4 linked regions of the Homo sapiens genome follow. The protein of the gene in region 3 purifies or fractionates together with the protein of the main gene of each other region. This does not show direct contact. Each region holds a gene or a part of one and is shown on either strand. Other genes may lie near its edges.

Evidence for each region. Proteins that work in one complex are often made in the same cells at the same time.
Region 1: the proteins of SLC67A2 (region 3) and NUP210 purify together in Homo sapiens (affinity purification with mass spectrometry; one large-scale study listed by BioGRID and IntAct). This does not show direct contact.
Region 2: the proteins of SLC67A2 (region 3) and AGK purify together in Homo sapiens (affinity purification with mass spectrometry; one large-scale study listed by BioGRID and IntAct). This does not show direct contact.
Region 4: the proteins of SLC67A2 (region 3) and CDIN1 purify together in Homo sapiens (affinity purification with mass spectrometry; one large-scale study listed by BioGRID and IntAct). This does not show direct contact.

The regions. Positions count from the first base shown.
Region 1 is NC_000003.12:13,326,323-13,329,822, forward strand, and holds part of NUP210 (nuclear pore membrane glycoprotein 210 precursor), read right to left. Parts: intron 2,625-3,500; coding exon 2,449-2,624; intron 1,116-2,448; coding exon 895-1,115; intron 1-894. UniProt on the Homo sapiens protein: Nucleoporin essential for nuclear pore assembly and fusion, nuclear pore spacing, as well as structural integrity.
Region 2 is NC_000007.14:141,613,910-141,617,409, reverse strand, and holds part of AGK (acylglycerol kinase, mitochondrial isoform 1 precursor), read right to left. Parts: intron 3,265-3,500; coding exon 3,232-3,264; intron 1,940-3,231; coding exon 1,845-1,939; intron 1-1,844. UniProt on the Homo sapiens protein: Lipid kinase that can phosphorylate both monoacylglycerol and diacylglycerol to form lysophosphatidic acid (LPA) and phosphatidic acid (PA), respectively. Does not phosphorylate sphingosine. Phosphorylates ceramide.
Region 3 is NC_000002.12:102,734,089-102,738,025, forward strand, and holds the start of SLC67A2 (major facilitator superfamily domain-containing protein 9), read right to left. Parts: upstream 2,801-3,937; 5' UTR 2,723-2,800; coding exon 2,558-2,722; exon of another isoform or gene 2,442-2,557; intron 1-2,441.
Region 4 is NC_000015.10:36,586,126-36,589,625, forward strand, and holds part of CDIN1 (CDAN1-interacting nuclease 1), read left to right. Parts: intron 1-3,500. UniProt on the Homo sapiens protein: Plays a role in erythroid cell differentiation.

The sequences.
Region 1 (3,500 bases), on a different chromosome or scaffold from region 3:
TCCCCATCCCTTCGTTGCCTTATCAATTCCTTTTTAGCAACAGACAGCAGGTGTGAGGCTCAGAGCTTTCACCACATACACATCTGAGTTAAAAGCCAATCACATTATATAATAAGTACAATTAAAGGACTCAACCATAATCTATTTATGGCAAATTATATTTGTTTTTCCTTAAAGGTAGTATTTCATCTCCTTTTAAAATGAATTTAGTAAGGTTAAAAAAAAAGGTGGAGACAATTTGAAAATAAAAGCTAAGTAAATAATTGTACACGTGTTCCACAGATGTACTACAGGTCACCTGGGCATGGCTGAAATTTGGAAGCCCCTGATTTAGCCCAGTGTCCTTCTTTGCTTAAGTCTCCCAGCCTGTGCTGTCCACTATGGCGGCCACTTCCCACAGAATTCACTAAAATGGTGAATTCAGTTCCTCAGCAGCAGCAGAGATCCGTGTGTCTCCTGGCTAGAGGAACTGAGTGAGACTATGCAGAGACAGGATGCCCCACAGGGGCAGGGGACCCCCCCACCGACTTGGCAGAGCTGTTCCAGAAAAGGGCTGGCAAATGCTTTCTGTGAAGGTCGGACATAAGCATTTGGGCTATGCAGCCCATACAATCTCTGCTATGACCACACAATCTGGCAGTGGTAGGGTGACAACAGCCACTGACCATACATAATGCATGGCACAGCTGAGTGCCAACAAAAATTTACTTGCAGAAAACAGGCACAGGCTGGATCTGGTCTCCGGGCAGCAGTTTTGGAGCACTGCTCCTGAGTATCCTGCAGGTCTGCCTGTAGGCCCCCGTGACTGGTGCCGAGCCCCTGCCCAGGTAGCCCCCACCCAGCTTTGCAAGCGTCCGTGACTCCACAGGTTCCCTTGCTCAGGATCTATCTTACCTTCCAGGCTGGTCAGAACAGTGGCCAGACAGAGCACGTCCCCCACCACCATGGCCCCAGACAGCTCTGGGGAGATGGCCTGTAGGACAGGCAGGGGCATGAAGTCCGAGAGGCCCGGGTGCTCTGCGTCCCACACACGGAGCAGTGTCAGGCCCACGCTGACTGTGCGGACAACGCAGGTGTTGTTGGTGGGGCCCTTCCCGATCTGCACAAAGTCGTCTCTAGGCACAGGAGAGAAAGGAGGGCTCTCAGTCTCGGGAAAGAAGCTTCCAACTCCCAAAGGGAGAAACGTAATCCATGTCCTCTGCTGAGCAAAGCATTCAACTGACTGAGGTCCCAGGTGTGGCCCCAACTCGAGGTTACCAAGCAGTGGCCCCAGATGAGGGACCACTGCAGGCAGGTGGCACAGGCTCGACCTCCTCACTTGTCATGCCAGAAAGCACATGCAGCTCGCAGCCAAACAGTGGCAGCAGCATCATTCCTGCATTTCAGAAAGGAAGCTGAGGCCCCGAGGGGAAAGAGATCCAGAGTGCTTCCTCACGCTCTTCCCACCAGGGAACTGGACATGCCAGAAAGGGAAGGCTGCCCTTACTATGCAACCTGACTGCAGAAGCAGCCTCTGCCCCTTTCCTCCTCTGAAAAATGGGGATCATCACGTGACCGTGACGCAGGCCTGGCATAAGCATTACATGAGGTCAGCAGTGGGGAGGCACCTGCCACAGGGCAGGTGCTCAGTCAATGTTGGCAATGGCAGCTTTGGTGCAGAAGTGTGGACTGCGTGGGGTGACAGTTTGGGTTAGGGATCATGGCTGCATCCTTGCCTCCACCACACCTTCTGACCCTGAGTGCTGACTAGGTCTCTATCAGGTGCTCCTGCTACAAGAAGGCCAGAATGACCTGCAGTGCAGCCAAAGGGCTGGGAGAACTGGGCTCCATTTCCTCCAGGACATGCCCTAAACTGATGGATGGCAATTATGTGCGCACACACGGAGTGCCATGGTTTGCCAGCGGTCCTCATGACCACTCCCTCAGCTGAAGGAAAGCCCTGGAACCTAGGCCATATTGCCCAACGTGAGAGGTGTGGAAACAGATTTTTGGATGGTGACCTACTCACAGGGCCCACGAAGGGCAGAGCTGGGGCTAGAACCAGGCCTGACTCTAAACCCCAGTTCTTTCCATAAGGCAACACCCCTGACACCTGTCTTTGAATGCATTCAGCAACAGGGAAACACAACTGTGGCAGGACCTGTGGGCAGCCGAAGCTGAAGGGCCAATTTCCTGTGCCTCGGGGAGCACTCCCTGGAGCTGCCCCATGCCCTGTTTCCTCCTTTGGGGGCTGATGCCTGTCTGTCTTCCTCTGAGCTGGTCTACATCCCCCAAGGGCAGTGGTGTTTCCTCGTGGCCCTGCATGGTGCAGCATGCCCACATCTCTTGGAAACTGAAGTAATACACATCTTCCTTCAACAGCAGCAGACTTTCTGTGTTATCCCCAGTTGTCTCTACCAGGTACCAGACAGGACTTCATAGGAGAAATGACCCTTGCCCACATCCTACCTGTTAGTGGCAAAGTTGAGGACCGAACTGTGAGCATGGAAGACATCTCCAGAGTTGTCGTGGAAGTGGACAGTGAAGGTCACGGTCATTCCCAAAGGCACGGCCACCAGGGCCTCCTTGTTCTGGGTGTGCAGGACAGGGCTCATGGAAACCCTCAGGTAGGAAACAGGGGATACCTAAGGGACAACATACAGGTATGATGAGGATTCAGTGCCAGGGACTGGCCTCCAGGAAAACCCACCTCCCAAGGAGGGGACACCTGCCCCCAGCAGGATCCACCTCAGGAACAATGCAGGGCTGGACTTAGGGGTCCTGAGAGGAGTAAAGGCCACACTCCCCAGAGTGTCCCAACCTAGTGACAAGGTTCTTACTTCCCAACACAGCAGACTGGCCTCTCTATGAGAAAACCCACCCAGGAGTGTCCCAATCCATGACTTGAATAAATGAGATCACTATTTACATTGCAAGAGGGCCCCCTGGGCTGCAAATGTCCAGTTTCTTCAGAGAACCTGGCTCTTGGGGCATTTAAAGAAACGAAATCCTCCTCGATCGCAGGGGCAGCGCTAAGCAGGCCACAGCATGCCCTGCAGGCCACCAGGGGAAGGAGGGAAATGGGGATTTCTGGAGCCCAAGAACCCGAGCTCCATAAACAGCAGCCCTTGTTTCTCTGAGTCCAGGTGAAAATCTATCCTCGCTCAAAAGCTAGTGCTCCAAAGGTCTGAATTTCTTTAACAAAGTTCAGTGGTGCAGTGTCTGGTATACAGCTAGTGCTCAGTACATATTTGTTGAAATAGGATGAGCAGTCAGTCACTTTCACTCACCAAAAACTAGAGCGGGGGATTTGCTGCCAGGCACCCATTTTGAAACAAAATGATGTGAATTAATGAAAGAGGTCTGTGACCCAGGCAGAGTCTAAAGATTTAAGTGAGTGTGTGTCTTCTGTCATCCAGGGTTCAGCAAGTGGTGATGATGAGACATGGAAAGAAAATTCCATTCAGCAAAACCCCAGGACCTGACCCAGGGATGCTGATGGAGAAGGTCCCATCCGTAAG
Region 2 (3,500 bases), on a different chromosome or scaffold from region 3:
TTATAAATTAAGTTTTATAAATTTTTAAACTATAAATAGCAGCAGCAACAGTAGTAGTTTAACTACAAGAGAAAATCAGTTCCCCCAAACTGAAGACTCTCTCAGACCCTGGGGGTTGCCACACTCTGTGTAAATTAGCTTTTGGACAGGCAAGGGGTCTCCAAGGAAAATGGTCTACCCTTGGATCAATGACATATGCTATTTGGAATACTGGCTAAAGCAATTCAAAAAATCTACACTGACACAAGGAGAAGACAAGCTCTCTAATGTAACCAACACCTGAATCAGACAGGATTCATCTTGGAAAAGCAAAAATGTGAGCAATTAACTGTCATTATCTACTGCCCCTCAGAAATTCTAAACCGGGAATAAAAAGTATGGCCAACTGACTTTGGGAGGCCGAGGCGGGCGGATCACGAGGTCAGGAGATCGAGACCATCCTGGCTAACACAGTGAAACCCCATCTGTACTAAAAATACAAAAAATTAGCCGGGCGTGGTGGCGGGCGCCTGTAGTCCCAGCTACTCGGAGGCTGAGGCAAGAGAATGGCGTGAACCTGGGAGACGGAGCTTGCAGTGAGCCGAGTTCGCGCCACTGCACTCCAGCCTGGGCTACAGAGCGAGACTCTGTCTCAAAAAAAAAAAAAAGAAAGAAAAAGAAAAAAAAAGGATGGCCAACTGAAATGGCCTCTCCTGTAGTTAGGCCCTCAGGATGGCTAATGAATAGCTGAATAATCCCCATTATATTAAGGTTTGAAATATAAAAGAAGTTTGAATGAAGATCTGACATATATATATGTGTGTATGCCTAGTGTTTTGAAAACTGGACTAAGATGCTTATTAAAATATAGAATTGTTAAAAGAGATACAGTTGACTCCTAACATTACAATAGCAAAAATAAATTCACAAAAGCCAGCCTAATCAAAGAATTCCAAAGCAGAAAAAAAAATCCTTAACCAAAACAGAAAATCACTTGGGTATTATTATTATTTATTCTAGAAGATTATAACCAGAAAAATCATGAGAAAATTTTCATTAAATCATGCAACAAATATTTATTTATTGACTTCCTCCAATGTGTCACAAAGCTTACGTTAACCATCAGGCAACTGATCTCTCAGCTATCTCTCCATTTATTTGGGTCTTCTTGACAACTATTTGCTCAAAATGATGTTATTAATCACTGTCAAAGCTCAAATTCAAGATTCCTATCTTCTTGAAAGAGCAGAGCTTTGTTTACATAATGCCTTCAAGCAAAAAAGAACAATAATAACAACAATTTGCTTGACTCCCAAAAACACTGTGAGACTCACAGCAATTTAATTTAGATGTCAGAGCTACACTGCTTTCCCAGTCTACTTTGTCTACACTGTCTACCACTTTAAGTATTCCCAAAAGGATGTGGCTATATTTACTTGTTTTAGCTATTTTTAATATCAAGATAATGAAGCCAGGCTACTAGTTCAGTCTTCACAAGGGACTTGTTATTTGTCATTGCATATACTTAAAGCAAACAAATGAGCAGCACAAATATGTCTTCACTAAAGAATCTTACAATGTACAAGCACAAAAACGGTTTAGGTCAGGGATATTATCTTCATAACTGACAAAAGGACATCAAGTATTCACCTCCCTACCTGACCTGGAGACTTATTATAAGAGTCCCACAACCAAGTTGGGAGACTTCCCAATGAACTGAAAGGCTGAACTCTGATCTAGGTCCTCCTCTTAATTATTTGAAGTTTCAGGCTATCAAAACTCAAGAAAGTTATAGCATACACATAAATTTTTCATTCCCAGTCTCGCTCACCCACAAATGCTAATTCCCCACATTGACAACCTACTGGACTTTGTTTCCACTTTCGGCAAAGAGGGTATGACTCAAACTACTGGTCTCTCCCAGTGGGATAAATCCAATGGGAATCTTACTGAAGGTAGCCTGGGGGGGGAAAGAAGAGGAAAGTTTTATTGTTATGATCAGAAAATCAGGCTTAATGGAGAAGCACAGGTGTGTCCACTATGACAAATAACTGACCCTGTATCTGCCTCCCCATCTCCTTTCCACATCCTTAGACCAGTAATCAAATAAAGCTAGGTGGGTAATTTCTAAAACAAGGCAGTCAATGAAAACAAAATGACTCAGAATTTGGAAGAAATATTTTAGTACTCATTAATGACAACTGTTTGAAAGAAATTTGGTTAAGATAATGAGGGTTTTGAAGATAATATATCAATGCACTAGTGCAACAGAGACTGTATAACATTGTCACACTATTTGATAAAGTTGCAGATAAAATTCAACTAAAAATGTCTACCATTTATACAGTGACCAATGACAGGTGAAGGTGCTTTATAAACTATCTTAAGTACAAATAAGGCAAAGAGAATAAACAAGTTCAAATAATAGATGGTACTGGCATAGCAGTTAATTAAATGCCACACATACAATAGATACTGTAAGGTTCAAAACAATTCTGAGCACAATGTACTATTACCAAAGGGACTGAGAAGGATCTTCTAGCTATTGTAGAAAAGTGCATAAAATAATGTTACAAAAACACCCATGTGCCCACAACCTATATTTAACAAATGTTAACATTTACCTTTTTGCTTCATATGTTTCAAGAAATAAAACGATAGAGATACAATGAAAGTCCCTTCTAAAACTATTCTCCTCTCTCCCTTCCCAGAGGAGACCATTATCCTGAGGTTGGTGTGATTCCTTTTCATCCACATTATTATTCTTTTGCTACATATTTAAGCATCCATTAACCATACATAGTATTGTTTTCTGAATTTTAAAACACTGTAGAAATGCATAACATACCTGGGCAACCTGCTTTTTTTTTTATTCAAAACTTTTGAGATTTAGCCATGTAGATATTTATACATTTAGTTCATTCATTTTAACTGTTAGATGATTCCCACTATATGAATATGCCACAATTTCTTTTATGAAAAAGTTCTTTGAAAAAAAGATTCCATAACAAAATTTTAAATAACCATTGTCAAAGTTATTGGATACCATCAATTACCAAACCAGAAAAGTCCCCATGTGTTAATATACGTGTTCTATGACATGGGTAGCAGTATTTTCTTTTCTAAAATTCAAGAAAGCACAATTTGTACCCGTTTTAAAATATACAATGGAAAAAAAAAGTAAAAGAAAGAAAAGCAATAAAAAAGAACAGAAAAATAAAAGTTAAAATGCAATTACTCTTTAATGCTCACCTCATCTGTTCGTCGAAGAACACCAGTAACAACCTACAAATGTAATAATAAAACATTGTTATAAATAATATGTATTTCCTTTACAATAAAAGAATTGGATTCAATTTTCATAGACCATAAACTTACTCCTGTTTTCTTCTTAGAAGCTCTGTTAAAAGATGCACTGGATCTTAAAACATATAGTATTCTCCAATAGAATCAGAGCTAAATTAGATTTTATTTTTGACCTATGATCAATAATACAATAAAGGCTAAGATAAAATAATTAT
Region 3 (3,937 bases):
TAACCACTTGTAAAAAGATCATGTCAGAAGGGGCCACTTAAACTTTCACTGAATATCAACATTTTTCAATAAAAATTGATGAATATGTACACTCAAAAGTTTCAAGACTCTTTTCAGGGTAGGAACCCCAGTAATTATTGATTACTGGACTATCTCAATGAAAATGAATTATCACCTGAATAAAGCTGATGGGATGGAAAACAAATCTCACCAAGTATCTGGAGGAAAAAAGTGGTTGAAATAATAGATCTCATCACCATCTAAGCATCCTAAACAAAACGGGCCTCAAGGGTCATCTTGGTCTTCCCTCCTAAACAAATTAAAACTTGGAAGTACGGATAACTGCTAAAACAGAACAATTTGGCAAATGACTTCTCTAAGCTTGTTCCCTTCCTCTCCCATTCAGAAACCATTTGTCCAAGAATCTTAGAGGTCTCTACATCCCTAAATATGTCAAAAAAAAACTAAATTATGTATAATGTTCCTTAGATGTTACCTAACAATCATCTGTTAGGTAGCTTTATGTGACTTTCATGTAAAGCTTCATATATTTAATTGTTTACAATATTTTCCATTAAAAAAATCCCTACTCTTTCAACTTTTGGGAAACCATAAACTTTTCCCTTAAGATATGAGACACCTAATGGTTCTCTTGAATACATTATTAAAGTTATTAAAATTCTGTATCAGGCTTGCTAGATTAGACTTGCCAAATACACAGCATAAAGAAAACATATGATAAATTGTGAATATTCAAATCTGTATTGGAAGGCTGACCTTAACAAATGATCTGCGAATTGCTTTGTTTTATTCTAATACTAAAACTACTTTGAATTCTAAGTCAAATTCTCTGAACCCTAGTCTGGACTTTCCAGGTAAGGGCTCAAATGTTTTCATCTGGCTGAACCAGCCCAAGTCCCTTCTGAGACAGGACAGCAGTAGCTTGGGACCCATAACTAAAAAGGCTGGATGTCAGCCAACTCCTCTCCAAGAACCACCCATACTCACTGGTTGTGAATTCTAGGTGCCTAGACTGAAAAGTAGAAGAAGCATCCCCATGCTGAGAATGAACTACTAGATTAAAGGAATAGTGGTCAGAAGGAGTGCCAGTCTCTGAAGTTAAAGGCATGGAGCTGGAGGGTGGATCCTGCAATGGCCTAGAGGCAGAGAAATCCTCTCTAAAAAGCCGCCCTCCCTGAAGACCTTGTGTTTCTGGGCTTGCAGCAATTTGATGAACATGCTTTCATGGTGATCTTAACTATTAACTCAACATAGAGTTGCTACCAACTGAACGCCTTGCATGGAGGTGGTGGCATGGAGAGTGCATGAAACTGGGAGAAGTGGTGGTCTTGATCTGCATCTGGGCAGAAAACGATGACTCCCTGCCAGGGCCCAGTGCCATCAGATACTATCTTCAAGGCCTCAAAGGCAGCCTTCTCCCATTGACACTTATCGCAGCTTCCTTACCCTCAAGATACTGGATTAGCTCACACTCAGGGCTGAATCAGGCCTAGCCTTGGAAAGGGAGGAGTGCAGAGGTGGATCTAGGGTTCTTGCAGATAATGGCCCAGAAACTACCAACATCAGCTTACTTGTAAGACTGAATTCTTCTGTGGCAGAACTGTGGATTACAATAGTGAAGCTCCGCAGCACCTGCCACATGGCAGGTGTTCAGAAATGCCATGAATCAGCTTACTAAACTTTCCATTCTACGTGGGAAATTAGCACTCAGGGAGCAAACCAGGACACGCGCGCGCGCACACACACACACACACACACACGATGAAACCAAACCGCCATTGTGCAATGCACACCCTTTGTCCAAAGGTAGATGGGTACAATTCACTCTGATCTGCATTTTTAAACATTCAAGTCAACCGAGAGCTCTAGTGAAAATGCACCCAATTCTGTACAAGTGGGGTCATCAACAGCGGCTTCTCCAGCCTGGTCTGGTAAAAAAGCAAACCACAGGCACACACATCATGATGAAACCAAACCTACGCTGTGCAATGCGCAGTTTGTCGAAAGGCAGATGGGTAAAATTCACTCTGATCTGCATTTTTTAATATTTAAGTCAACCAAGAATCCTAGTGAAAATGTGCCTAAATCTGTCCAAGCGGGGTCAAGAGCGGCCTCCCCTGCCTGTTCTGGTAAAAAGGCTTGCGTGTCCCTACCTCACCAGCAGCCGCACAGCAGCTGGGCTTTTCCAAGCTTGCCCACACCCCTGTTCTCCGCCCTGCAAAAGCTGCACCTGCCACAGCATTTAACACCTGGTCACACCTGAGGTTGGTACCAGGGCTTCTCAAAAGGCAGGGAAGGGAAGACGTTCCGCGAACGGGGTGCAAGAGAAAGCGCGAGGGGCAATAAAGCAGTGTGGCCAGATGCAGACTGAAGTGGGTGATAGGGCAAGAGGAGAGCTTGATAGGTAGTGAGGCACTCACCAGGCGGACTGCGGGTTCCCACTCCCTGGGAGCTCCCCGGAAGCTCCAAGAACCGCCTGGGTCCCCAGGCCCGAACACAGTCAGCACTTGCTCCCAGCCCCCACGCTCGCACTCACCAAGAAGCCCACCAAGTAGAGACAGAGCAGGAAGCGGCGGGCTCCGACGGCACCGGAGTCGGCAGCCTCCGCCTCGGTTCCTGTCTTCTGCTCCTGTTTCCGCTCTGCGGTCTCCGAGACCAGCCTCGGGGCCGAGTTCATGTCCCAGTGACCCCCAAGCTCCATACCCGCGCCGGCCGGGGGTCGGACGCAGCAGCAGCCGCGGACCTACCCCGGGAGCCCAGCCCCGCCCCGAGCGGAAGCAGGAGGCGCGCGCCTGCGCAGAGAGAGGGGGCGGGTGCTACCTGGCAGCTCCGCGGGTGCGTGGCCGGTGCTGGCTGGGAGTTCTGGTCTCAGGCAAGGTGGGGACTGGGCACATCATCAATACGGTAAGCACACACCAGTTTGTGATGATAATGATGATGCTCTTTGTTTCCTCTGGGTACAGACCCTGCTGCCCCTATCGTTGGAGGACAGGAGGGAATTGTATTGAGCTTCACTTCCTCCTATGGAGTTGTGCTAGGAGGTGACCAACTCCAGCTTGAAGATCCACAGACCCTGGCCACCAGTTGGTTGTGACAGACCTAGGATACGTTAACGTGGCTCTCCAAGCTTTCGTTTGCCTATTTAAAAAGCAGTAGGAAATAATGTAGTCCAACTTCTAGAGGTGTGAGAATTCTACACATGCTTCTTAAGATCCTTTCTGGTGCAGTGCAATGTGAACAAACCATAGATGGTCTATGCCTGAGTTGAGATTACAGTCTCATGGAGTAAAAATAATAAGCACGCAGTAAATAAACATAAATAAAAATACTAAACATGCAATGAAAAAGCATAAAATAAGTAAAATAATATGGTGATAATATAAAGAAGCACGGTCTTGATGTGGAAAGTAATGAGGTGGGGAGTGAGCTACTTTAGAAAAGCAGTTTGGAGGAGGTGACATGTAAGCTGAGAAGAGTGGAAAGAAGATATGTGTGGCTGAAACTTCCTCATCAAACTGAGAGGTCAGCAGGAGTGCAGACCATTTAGGACCCAGAAGGCCATAACAGAGATTTGGGGTTTATTCTGAGTGCAGTGAAAGGAATTAAGTGAGTGCATGACACCAAAAGATGCCTTTAAATTACTTAGCAAAGCCCATGACACATGGTAAGTAATAAATGTTAACAATAGTGACTAGCCCCTCTTTTCTTTAGAACTTGTTATTTATTCCTCTTTCACTGTGGGATCAAGAAGACTCTGACATTTTACTGAGATTTTGCTCAAAATCTCAATTTACTTGTGTAGGTTGCTAATTCTGAGATCTGTTAAATTCAGTGTTGCAAAGTTTCTCATGGGAGGTGGCACTGAATAGGGAGAAGTGGAATACTGATACTTAGAATTAAGACATATAATTGAATC
Region 4 (3,500 bases), on a different chromosome or scaffold from region 3:
GTACCTCTTCCCTAATTCTTCATTTTGAGACACTCCACAGTTTGCTTGGTGTGGGTTTACCTTTGAGTTTTTTTTTTTTTTTTAACTATTACAACTGCACTATAAAGTTACTATTGTTCCTTTTAATAAATACCTTGTGGGGATATACTTTGAGACTATGCAAATTTCTTGTTTCTCGTCACCCTTTTTCCCATTGATTTTAGCATCCATTGACTTTTTCATGAAGCAGTTATTACTGGTATTTGCTTAATAGTGATTCTCTATTTCTCTCACCAGAATATTCATTTAACCAGTGTCATCCACTGCCACCATTTTATGTGAAACGAACTACCCTACAATTAGCCCACGATTTTCATTGGTATTTGTAGAGTTTTTCACCACTTAATTAGCATGTGGTCTATAATAGTGTGCTCACTATGTTTGTGGCACTATTTGGGTATTAAAACAACAACAACAAACAGCAACAACAATAACAACAAAATAGCTGGGCACCTGTAGTCCTAGTTATTCAGGAGGCTGAGATGTGAGGATCACTTCAGCTCAGGGTTTTGAAGTTACAGTGCATTATAATTGTGCCTGTGAATAGCCACTGTACTCCAGCATGGGCAACATAGCTGTACTCCAGCATGGGCAACATATTTCTAAAAACAAAATAAAACAAAACAAAATAGGATAATGTAGTAACTAATTTTGGATAGCTTGTAGTCTGAGGAAACTAGTGTAAGACACATCCAATAGCTATGAAGTATTAGAATCATAGAATGTTAGAAGCCAAAGGATTCGTTGAATAGTTAGTTCAGATATGGTTAAGTAGCATTCTTAGGATTCAAATAAGTAGAATATACCTTGTTGGGAATTATTTTGCTAGTAGACCAAGCCCTCTGGCACAAGTTTAATTTTTCCTTGAGTTCCCTTACCATATATTGGTTATTTAGTCGCTGTACTAATGACTCAAACTCGTGATACCATAAATCGCTAAGCAAATAGATATCTGTATCATTTTGATATATCTTTGCCCTTAGAGATCCTGGCTTAGGTTTTTCTAATGGTGTTTTCCACATTTTGAAGCATGTTTTTTTTCTTTTTTTCTATCTTGGCCCATATCTCCTACTGTCTTCCTACTCTTGGATTATGACATAGGCAACCATTCACTCATATGAGGTGCTTTAAATTGCTGTTCCTAGTAAGATCTCAAAAGTAATAGGTAAAAACTTGTTTGAGTGGTCATCCTGTGCTTAAACCAATGTACTTAGTCATCTTCTTGAAATCTCACCTCTCTTTACCAGAAAATGAGTTGAAGCTGGCCATATTGTGTATTGTGCTGTGTACAGTGTTGAACTTAGTGGTTCTTGGTGGTGAACTTAGGAGTCCAATCTGGTAAGGAGTGGAGTAGCTAAAAAACTTGCTTGGGACAAGCACAGCAGTTTTACTTGGCTCTTATGCTTATTTGAGGTGGCTTGGTTTACTTGGTGCTGCCATTGGTTATGGTTGTCTTTTTTGAACAATCCCTCCCACCCCCAATAAATGATGCATTTAAGATGCCTGCTCTTTCCAGAGGGAGTCTCGTATTCCATTCTTCTTGCCTCCTATCACAGTTTCTTCCTGAGAAATGATAGAAATAAAAAGCTCTATCTCTTTTTATCTGAGTCACAGTTGTCTCATCTGTAAAAGGAGAGGTGAAGTCCGACGGCTAGGAAGTAGAGGAAGCAGGATATCAAACCCAAGTAAAGTCAGGCTCCAGAATCTCTTTCTCGCTCTGTTGTCTCTTCTTGATCAGTTCCTTAAGGCTGTGGTGACGGTGAAGTGAGATAAGGCATGTAAAACAGCGCAGTGTAGAGCTCTCCGTAAGTTTTTAATGAAAAGTAAATATGATTTTTGTTAGAAGGTAGTAGCTGATCTACAGTAGAAGAAATGTCTGAGCAGTAACCTTTTGAAACATAAAACACAATTTTGCTTTGAAACAAAGTGCAGTAGATTTACAGAAAATGAAAATGTTTATATGGAACAGTTGGTTGTATGGCTGAACATGTAAGATTTGATTATCAGTTGAATATTGTATCGTTAACAGAAACTTCTTTAAGTATTTCACAGTGATATATAATGGCATTTAAAAAAACCTTTTAAACCTAAATTCACTGATTTTTAAGAATTGAGGGAGCATTGCAATGCATAATTAATACCGTAGGGCTTGGTATACTTAATTGAAATACTATTCCTATTGGCCTTGTTTTTCTCAATTGAAATGAAAGTTGATTCTCAGTTTGTGGTCAATTTTCTACACTTCTGATAATTTTGTGGTGGACCTGAGTTCCAGAATAATAAGTGAGAATAGCTTAGAAAGAGAGAGAAAGGCTTTTATTGAACTGGAAATTCTACTGATGGTTTTGCCATAGAAATAGAATTAATTTACATGATCTTTAAAATTAATATTCATACACCCAGGAAGGATATCTAGGGTTATTTCTGTATTAATCATTGGACTAGGTAGGAATGTCTAAGAAAAGAGTATGATTATTTCATGTGTTTTCTTTAGTGATCTTTTACATTTTTTTCTGTATTATTATTATTATTTTTTTACTTTGTTGCTACATTGTAGCTTAGCTTTAAAGACTCTTCTGAAAGGTTATTATGTTAGTGTATGGCCCCTTCACTTTCTAAAAGAAGTGTTTAGCTTTTATTAGATATTTGTGCATCTTTGCATTGTGTAGCTGCGAAAGGGATATGAGCTTGAATTCTTCGCAGAGGAGTATTTGAAGAAAGCCTCAGATAATGTTATTCTAAGAAGAATCCACATGCTATAATTATATTTCTTATTAATTTGGGGGGAATTTTCATGTAATTAGAATATTGGCTTTATTTAAAAAATCTATATTCAGGCATCAAACTTTAGTTTACTAAGTAATAACCCTTACCAGAATGATTGCTTGTGCAATAAGGAGAAATTATATATTTCTCTAGGGGAAAAAAAGGTTCAATAGAAGTATAGTTTAATAATATTTTATTATTTAACTTTTGACAAAGTCGACTGAATTTGCCATTGTTTTTATTACACATTTTGTACAGTTTTGCCGTATTGGTTGAATTTTCCTTAGAAACAAAACAATCAATATATGCTTTACTAGATTAAATCTGAAAAGTGACCTTAATATATGAAGTCATGCTCTGGTATAAAGATCATATAGAAGATAGGTAAAGAGTAAATGCTTCTTTATTTTTAATTGTCTTTTTATTGAAGGGAGATGTTTTCAAATGTATACTTGAAGATGTTTCTCCTTTCTCCATTCTGCTGTCAAGTTGCTTAAACAGTGAGCTGTATATACAGTGAATACATTTAAGCTGCTAGGGTGAAACTCCTAACTGAATGACAGTTCTCCATTTCTTTTTTCTTTTTTTTTTTTGAGACGGAGTCTTGCTCTGCTTCCCAGGCTGGAGTGCAGTGGCGCCATCTCGGCTCACTGCAAGCTCCGCCTCCTGGGTTCACGCCATTCTCCTGCCTCAGC